Linked DNA regions of Homo sapiens. The protein of the gene in region 2 binds, or shares a complex with, the protein of the main gene of each other region. Each region holds a gene or a part of one and is shown on either strand. Other genes may lie near its edges. A codon is read from its position in the direction of its gene.

What was found. Proteins that work in one complex are often made in the same cells at the same time.
Region 1: the proteins of CMKLR1 (region 2) and RARRES2 are in contact, whole or in part, in a cryo-EM structure (PDB 8ZJG), measured with the Homo sapiens proteins. Residues at the interface, in NP_001135815.1 of Homo sapiens: Asp20, Tyr21, Leu22, Asp23, Ser24, Ile25, Val26, Val27, Leu28, Phe88, Leu92, His95, Tyr103, His104, Asn116, Leu119, Ile120, Met123, Arg178, Leu183, His184, Gly185, Lys186, Ser188, Cys189, Phe190, Asn191, Trp203, Thr205, His217; in NP_002880.1 of Homo sapiens: Leu34 (codon at 3,032), Phe37 (codon at 3,041), His38 (codon at 3,044), Phe60 (codon at 3,341), Thr75 (codon at 3,386), Ser76 (codon at 3,389), Cys77 (codon at 3,392), Arg96, Leu111, Gly112, Arg113, Leu114, Val115, His116, Cys117, Pro118, Ile119, Thr133, Leu136, Arg137, Gln139, Arg140, His146, Ser147, Phe148, Tyr149, Phe150, Pro151, Gly152, Gln153.

Annotation. Positions count from the first base shown.
Region 1 is NC_000007.14:150,339,942-150,343,541, reverse strand, and holds the start of RARRES2 (retinoic acid receptor responder protein 2 precursor), read left to right. Parts: upstream 1-1,912; 5' UTR 1,913-1,964; intron 1,965-2,912; 5' UTR 2,913-2,932; coding exon 2,933-3,106; intron 3,107-3,337; coding exon 3,338-3,442; intron 3,443-3,600. UniProt on the Homo sapiens protein: Adipocyte-secreted protein (adipokine) that regulates adipogenesis, metabolism and inflammation through activation of the chemokine-like receptor 1 (CMKLR1). Also acts as a ligand for CMKLR2.
Region 2 is NC_000012.12:108,337,562-108,341,502, reverse strand, and holds the start of CMKLR1 (chemerin-like receptor 1), read left to right. Parts: upstream 1-2,191; 5' UTR 2,192-2,476; intron 2,477-3,941. UniProt on the Homo sapiens protein: Receptor for the chemoattractant adipokine chemerin/RARRES2 and for the omega-3 fatty acid derived molecule resolvin E1.

The DNA.
Region 1 (3,600 bases), on a different chromosome or scaffold from region 2:
TGCTGAAAAATCAACTGATGAAAGGCAGATTAATAGAATAAATTGATTCATTTATATTTTAGAGACAAGGTCTTGCTCTGTCCAGAGAGGCTGAAGTACAGTTTCATGATCAGAGCTCACTGCACCTTTGAACTCCTGGGCTCAAGCAATCCTCCTGCCTCGGCTTTAACAGGAAATATTTATTAACATACATGAGAGAGAACCACAAAGTGATTACCCCAACCCCTCAGTGGGATACAGAAGCTTATCCACCATCTTGAGTTTATACAAATATGGGGGCTCAGATAGTGGCAAGACAGGTTATGGAAGGGAGGGAAGAGGAGGCCTGGTTGGCAAAGGGAGTCTTGTTAGGTAGATGACACCTCACAGGTAGCAGCCCTCAGAAAGAACTGAGGGTAAATGTTTCTTTCAGATCTGTAAAGGTGTCAGCCTCTCAGTTAATCTTTCCTAGAGTTAGACAAGGGAGAGCCTCGGAGAAAGCCTGGCTACATCAATGCAGATTTCCTCTACAGATGCAAATCTCTCCACAAAAAGACAGCTTTTTGGTTATTCTATTTCCAACCATTCTGAACAGCCACCTTGAAATGTGTCAAAGAAGTATTTTTTGGGGTGAAATATTTTGGTTTCCTTCAAGTTCTTGGGCTGGGAAACATCTTTGGGTGCATCTTTTCTCTCTAACCCCATCTAAAGCTTTCAGGGAACACGGATCCCATCTCTTTCTGCTTAAGGGCGGCTGAGTAGCTCACAGCTGGGGAGTGAAGTACCCTAAGTAGTGGTGGGATTTCAGACACCTGGAAGTGGTTAATGGAAGCCGAGTTTCTTTCTGGTGCCCCCAGAGCACACTGTAAAGGAAATTCTCAGCTCTAAGTGGAGAATCCTGGTTAGGGGTGCGTAAGTAGGGGACAAAAGCCTTGTGCTCGGCACTGGACATCAGTTGCTTTTCATGTTTCTTCATTTAATCCTCAAAACAACTCCTTAAGACAGAGTTTCTGATCCCCATCTTACAGATAAAGAAACAGAAGTTCAGAGAGAGCCATGAAGTTACATGAGATCCTCTACTTCAGGTGATCCCTGCGGTGTGGGAACCAGAGGCATGGTGTTGGTGGTTACTGACGTGCAAAGTCTCAGAGCTTCTTCATCCTTGCTCCAGCGTACCCAGGAGTCGAGCCGGTATTTGGACAGTTTTCCTTGAGTTTCTGCTCACCTTATGAATTCCATCATGCCGTTCTGCCACACCCGAAGGCTCCCCCACTCCCCATGAGAATCTATCCCACGGAGAATGGGGCACGAGGAATGGTCAGGAAAGGCAGATGCAGGATACACACTGGACATCTTTGCTGTCGATCAAGGTTGCAGGCGCCAGAGTCCTCCCTAAAGGAGAGACCTTCCTTCTCAGTGTGGCTCAGGGAGTGGGAGGCAGGATCAGGTGTAGGGACCTCGAGGTCTCATTTGGTTTGAGAATGTCTGTATTTAGGGGAAGAAATCCCAGGATGAGTGTCTCAGGGACGCTGGGGAATGGTCCCCCGTAAAGGACCCAAGACAGGGCAGCCCTGCCTGGGTAGGAGTGGGGCACAGAAAGTCCTTGGGGGAGCAGAGCAGCGGAGAAGAGGCCCGGGCCGGCCGAGGCTGCGGAATGCTCAGGCCCGAGCCAGAGGGAGGTGGGACCGAGGGCTGCGCGCCTGGGCGAGCCGCCTGCAGCCGCGGCCAGGGTCAGGGTCATGAGGGCTGGATCGAGGGGAAGGAGGGGGGTGGGATGGGGAGGGAGGGCGCGGGAGGGCATCCCGCCCCAGAGGCCGGTCCCACTGGGGAGGGGAGGAGCCAGAGTTGCTGGAGGGGGTCCAGGAGGTGGGGGTGGGAGGAGGTGGGGGCCGCCCCGCGAGAAGAAGAGCGGGAAGAGGCGGACAGCGAGGCCAAGATTTCAGCTGCGGGACGGTCAGGGGAGACCTCCAGGCGCAGGGAAGGACGTGAGGAGGGGAAGCGGGCTGGGGCGGCAGCCGGGCGGAGGGGCAGCTGCGCAGGCGGAATGAGGAACGCCTTTGCTCTAAGGCGACCACCCTGGCAGCTCTTCACTGAGGGGCCTCGGTTTCCACATCTGTCGCTCTCCGGTCCCAAGACCACCAGGACCGACGGGGCTCTCCGGGAGGGTCAGCCCCTCCGGTGGCCCCAGTCATGCATCAGGGGACGGATCAGAAGGGCTAGGAAGAGGGGTCGTGGGGAAGGCCCCAGAAAAAAGAGGAAGGAGGGAAGATTTTGCCTGAAGCGGGAAAGCCAAGGGCTGGGCGGCGCGAGACCCCCATTCCTAGCGACTGGGGCTGGCTGGTGGCCCGCGGCAGCCCCCGCGCCGGGAGGATTAGGCCTCCCGCCGCTCCCACCCGTCCGGACCCTCCCACGTGTTTAGGTCCTCCCAAAAGTATTCGGCCTCCGGCCCCTGCCCCTTCCCCCGGCTGGCCTGGACCTCGGGGACGTGGGGGGAACCCCGTGGGAGCAGGGGGATTCTGGACGGGGAGGGAGTAGCGGTTGGGGAGAAGGCTGAGCGGGGAAAGGAGAGAGGGGCTCCGGGGACGGCAGGGAGGAGAGTGGGTCGTGCCGGAGACCCAGGGAGAGACACAATGGGCAAGATTAGGGGTGTAGGGTGGGAGTGCGAACTGACTGATTCCTAGCGTGGGCAGGGAACTTTGCTAAAACTGCAGGCCCCAGGGAACAGCGCGGGCAGGGTGGGAGGGAACGGAGAGGGCCAGGCGGACCCTAAGGTCAATTTGGAGAAAGGGCCATTTCCAGGCTCCTTCACCTGTGCCCAGCGTTCTACAGGCCTGGACCCCGCCCCCGCTCCCCACCCTCCCCCCAGAGCAGGGCGCGGGAGGAGGCGGCTCGGGCTGGCTCGGAGAGCTGAGGGGCGCACACCCGCTTCGCAGGGCCAGGGTGACACGGAAGCATGCGACGGCTGCTGATCCCTCTGGCCCTGTGGCTGGGTGCGGTGGGCGTGGGCGTCGCCGAGCTCACGGAAGCCCAGCGCCGGGGCCTGCAGGTGGCCCTGGAGGAATTTCACAAGCACCCGCCCGTGCAGTGGGCCTTCCAGGAGACCAGTGTGGAGAGCGCCGTGGACACGGTGAGTAGCATGGCCCGGGCAGGAGCGGGGAGGGTCGTACCCCAGGAGACCAGCGCATTCCCACGAAGGGGGACAGAAGTGCTTGGGCTCTGAGCCCCAGCCCTTTGGAGAAAAGGCCACTGTCCAGCCTGCTGGAATGTGACTGCGTGAGGGAGGTGCGGATCACACCAGGGCTTGCTCTGCACCCTCAGCTGGCTACCGGCCATCCTCTGCCTGCCTGTCTGTCCGCAGCCCTTCCCAGCTGGAATATTTGTGAGGCTGGAATTTAAGCTGCAGCAGACAAGCTGCCGGAAGAGGGACTGGAAGAAACCCGAGTGCAAAGTCAGGCCCAATGGGGTGAGTGAAGGGGTGTGAGAGCAATGGGCGCATGCTGGGTGTGAGTGCATGGACTTGGGGTTTGGGGTGTGGGGCACATGCCTGGGTGTGCATGCATGAATTGGGAGGTCCATTAAGAAGCCCTGAGGTTAGAGACCCCACTGCGAAGAGCCTCCTTA
Region 2 (3,941 bases):
TGTTTCTAACAAACTTCTGGGTGAGGCTGCTGGGGTTGGTATGGAAACTAGACTTTAGGAACCTCTGGTCTCTATTAGATGGTGATATACAAGATCCCTGCCACGTTATGGAAATATCCTCTCCTTTCACCAGGAGAACCTGGGGAATGACATGATTTGGCTTTGTGTCCCGACCCAAATCTCATCTTGAATTGGAATTCCATAATCCTCACGAGTCATGGGAGGGACCAGGTGGGAGGTAATTGAACATGGGGGTGGTTTTCCCCCCATCCTGTTCTCATGATAGTGAGTGAGTTCTCATGAAATCTGATGGTTTTATAAGAGGCTTCCCCCTTTGCCTGGCACTCATTGTCTCTCCTGCCACCCTGTGAAGAGGTACCTTCCATCATGATTGTAAGTTTCCTGAGGCCTCCCCTGCTATGCGAAAATGTGAGTCAATTAAACCTTTTTTCTTTATAAATTACCCAGTCTTGGGTATTTCTTCACAGCAGTGTGAGAACGGACCAATACAATTACTAACTTCTGGGTGACCTTGGGTGAGTCCCTTGCCTCCTCTGGGTTCAGTGTTCTCATCTGTACAGTAAGTGTTTCGATATGATGTTTTGTTCCCTAGATAAGCCCAAAGAAGAAGAGAGCAAGGAAGACAGTTGGGTAGACTGGGCCTGACTTCTGACTATAGAGACCTGTGTGACCTCAGGCAAGAGACTCAATCTCTCTGGGCTTCAAGTTATCTGTGAAATGGAAGAATGAAATTAGATGGTTTCTAAGTGTAAAGCTCACTGAATTAAAGGATTGAGGATGGTGGGGAGAGGTCGGTGGGGTTCTAAGGCTGATCAGACGATGAGGACATAGTCCTCCACCTGCCCAAGACTTTGAGGCCCAAAACACAGGTTTCTCTCCTTCTCTCCCTCCCTCCCCATCTCCCTCTCCCTTCACCTTCCCCTCCTCCCCATTACCTTCCTCCCTGCCCTCCCTTTTCTTCCTTTCTTTCTTCTCCTCCCTTCCCCTCTCTTCCCCTCCCCTGCCCTTCCCTTTTCTTTTTCTTTCTAAAAATATTATTTTAGGCAGTCGTAGGCAGTCTTGGCTTTGGAATCAGACAGACTCAGATCCAGCCATGGCTCGGTCAGCATGAGCTTGGCGCCCTGGGCAAAACGACTTCTGCTCTGTGGCCCTAGCATCCTCATGTGTAGAATGGGCAAGTGATGCCCCCCCGACGTGGGTGGTGGTTCACACGGCTTACTCCATGGAAGCACTTGGCACAGGGGCCCACATGGGCACTTCTGTTATTTCTTCAGTCTGGAGGCCAAGGGTGGGCCTCCGAGCCAGACAACATAGTTGGAATCCCAGCTCTGTCAGCTGCTGGCGGTGTGGTCTTGAGCAAGTGACTTAATCTCTCTGTACCCCAGTTTCCTTATTGGTAAGACTGGAGTAGTAATAATTCCTGTTATCTAGGGTTGCCGTGAAGAGTAAGTACGCATCGCCTAGCACGCTGCCTGGCTGTCGGTTGTTTTGATTATTCCACTAATGATGGTGACCACACAGCCGATGAACCAGGCACTTAGCGCCTGGTTAGGGCAGGGAACAGAATACAGTTCTTTCCCTACAGAGTTCCTGGTGCAAGGAGTTCTCGGTGCAAGGAGAGAGACATCTTAACAGGCAAGGACAGCACTGCATCAGTGAGGTGATGGGGTGACCCTGAGGGGCACAGCAGCCCCCGAGGGTTGGGGAAGGCTTCCCTGGGAGGTGACCTTCAACCTGAGACCTGAAGAGGCAGTAGGAGACCATCGGGCCACGAATTAGGGCAGGAATAGCATCCAGGTGGGAGGAACAGCGTTGCAAAGGCCCAGGGTGAGAGGCAGCCAATCTCTCGGTCAGTGTGGAGCTTGAGCCCCTCACCGGGAGCAGAGGCGCTTGCACTTCCCCCAGCAGCCGGGTGCTCAGATGTGCTCCCTGTTTGCGCTCAGTGGGCACGGCTCCCCGGCTGCAAGAGGCTGCCAGAGGGGCGGGTCGTCCCCAGCGGGCCCCCGCCGCCACCCACAAGCCCAGTCCCCGGCTGGTAGGGGCACCCTCCCCTCGCAGCCCCCTCTCCACGCAGCTAGCCGCCCCCGCCCTAGGTCAGCCCAGTTTCCTGCCCCTCCCTCCTGCTCTCCTCCCTCCAGCTGTTTCTCTGGCTGAGTTCTGTCCCAGTCCCATTCAGGGAAGCAGCCCCGGCGGCCAGCAGGGAGCTCAGGACAGAGCAGGCTCCCTGGGAAGCCTCCGGGTGATAGGGGTGTTCCAGCTGCGGCGCTCTGGGGGTTCAGAGGGGGATCTTGAATGAACAAATGAATGAACTGCTTTCTGGGCAAACAGCCACAGCCAGAGGAGCCTGTGATTGGCAGAAAGAAGCCAGGGTGTGCAAGTCTCCCCAACAGCCTCGAGTGGCCTGCAGTCACAGGGAACCCTCAGGAAGACCTTCCGGGCAGAGACCAGAGGGAAGGTATCATCACACACTTGCCTTGGGTGTCTTCTGAGGGGGGCCAGGGAAGGGGAATGAATACTAACAGAGAGAAAAGTTTGTTTCTTTTTATAATTTCATATTTGTTAAAAGGAAGAGTTTTGTTATTATTTTCAGATGTCAAAAGTAATGCATGTTCATTGTTTAAAGAAATAGCAAGGATACACAACTAAATATATGAATGTGGATTTCCACATCTAGTTTGGTAACCTGCTTAACCACAGATTGTGAACTTTTTTCCATATCACCTATATTCTTCCAATATACATTTTTCATGGCTGCATAGAAAGGCTATCTTAAGATTATTTGACTTTTCCATAATAGATTTGCTTCTTTTTTTTTATTAGAACAGTGCTGCAATGAATATTTAGTATGACATCTTTGTGTGTGTGTCTTATGAATACCTTTTAGAAATTGCTAGATTTAAGGTTTGCCTATTTTTAAGACTTCTGAGCTTTTGGTCACACTGCACCCTGGAAGGCCGTGGCAGCTTGACCTCTCTACGATGTTATACCAGGGCACAGTATTCTCACATACTAAACCCACCTTGTTGCTACCCATCCCTTAAACTTTCCCTGATGTGAAGTCGAGAATAATATCTAGATGCTTCAATAGGCATTTCATTTCTTTGTTAGTGTTGATTCTCTTTTATAAACTTATTTTTCACATTTCTAGTCTGACTCTCCTGTTCAAGTCTGTTCCCATTTTTTTCTCCTCTGGGGGCATGTTTATCTTTTTCCAATTGATATCTAAGGGTTCTTTGTATATAAAGGACACAAAACCTTTGCCGGCACTCTCTGTTGAAAATATTCCACTCCCTCCTCTGTCTTCAGAATAGCCCATTTTAAATGGGCAAGCCAGCTTTGGCAAAATTATAAGCATTACAACATCAGGGAACTACTACTTGATATAAGCCCAATCACTCAGACCTGTGCGGTTCAGAGATGCCAGATCACTGGTCTGAGGTCACACGCCTGAACGTCCAGGTTCTGAGTCTTTCTTTTTCTATTAGGGAAAGCCCTCAACTTCCCTTTTGCATCCCCTACCTCCTTCTCAAGACCAATCTTCTCTGTGGTTCTTGCTGTATCTCCTGCCCCTTCCAAACTGGTTTGAAGGTAAGATTCCTCTAAATGCCTTGGCTGCTGAGGTGAGTGTGACTGGGTCATTCAGGCCTCTGGTGCAGGAGGAGGCAGCTTGGCCTTTTCTTTAACCTAAACCAGTGGCACTCAAATGATGATGTGTCATACACTTGGGAGGTCCACAGGAGAGTTATCTCTTGATGCACAGGGGCCTTCTTTGGACTCCCCCAAAACTTCAGGGAACAGATAACCTTAACTTTGGGCAAGTCATGCCTTTCTCTGGCTTGACTTGTTCTGAGAAGTCCCCTACCCGCACTGGGTCAGGGCTTGTCTGCTAGGCTCTCCCAGGGCCTATCCCTCCCTTATCA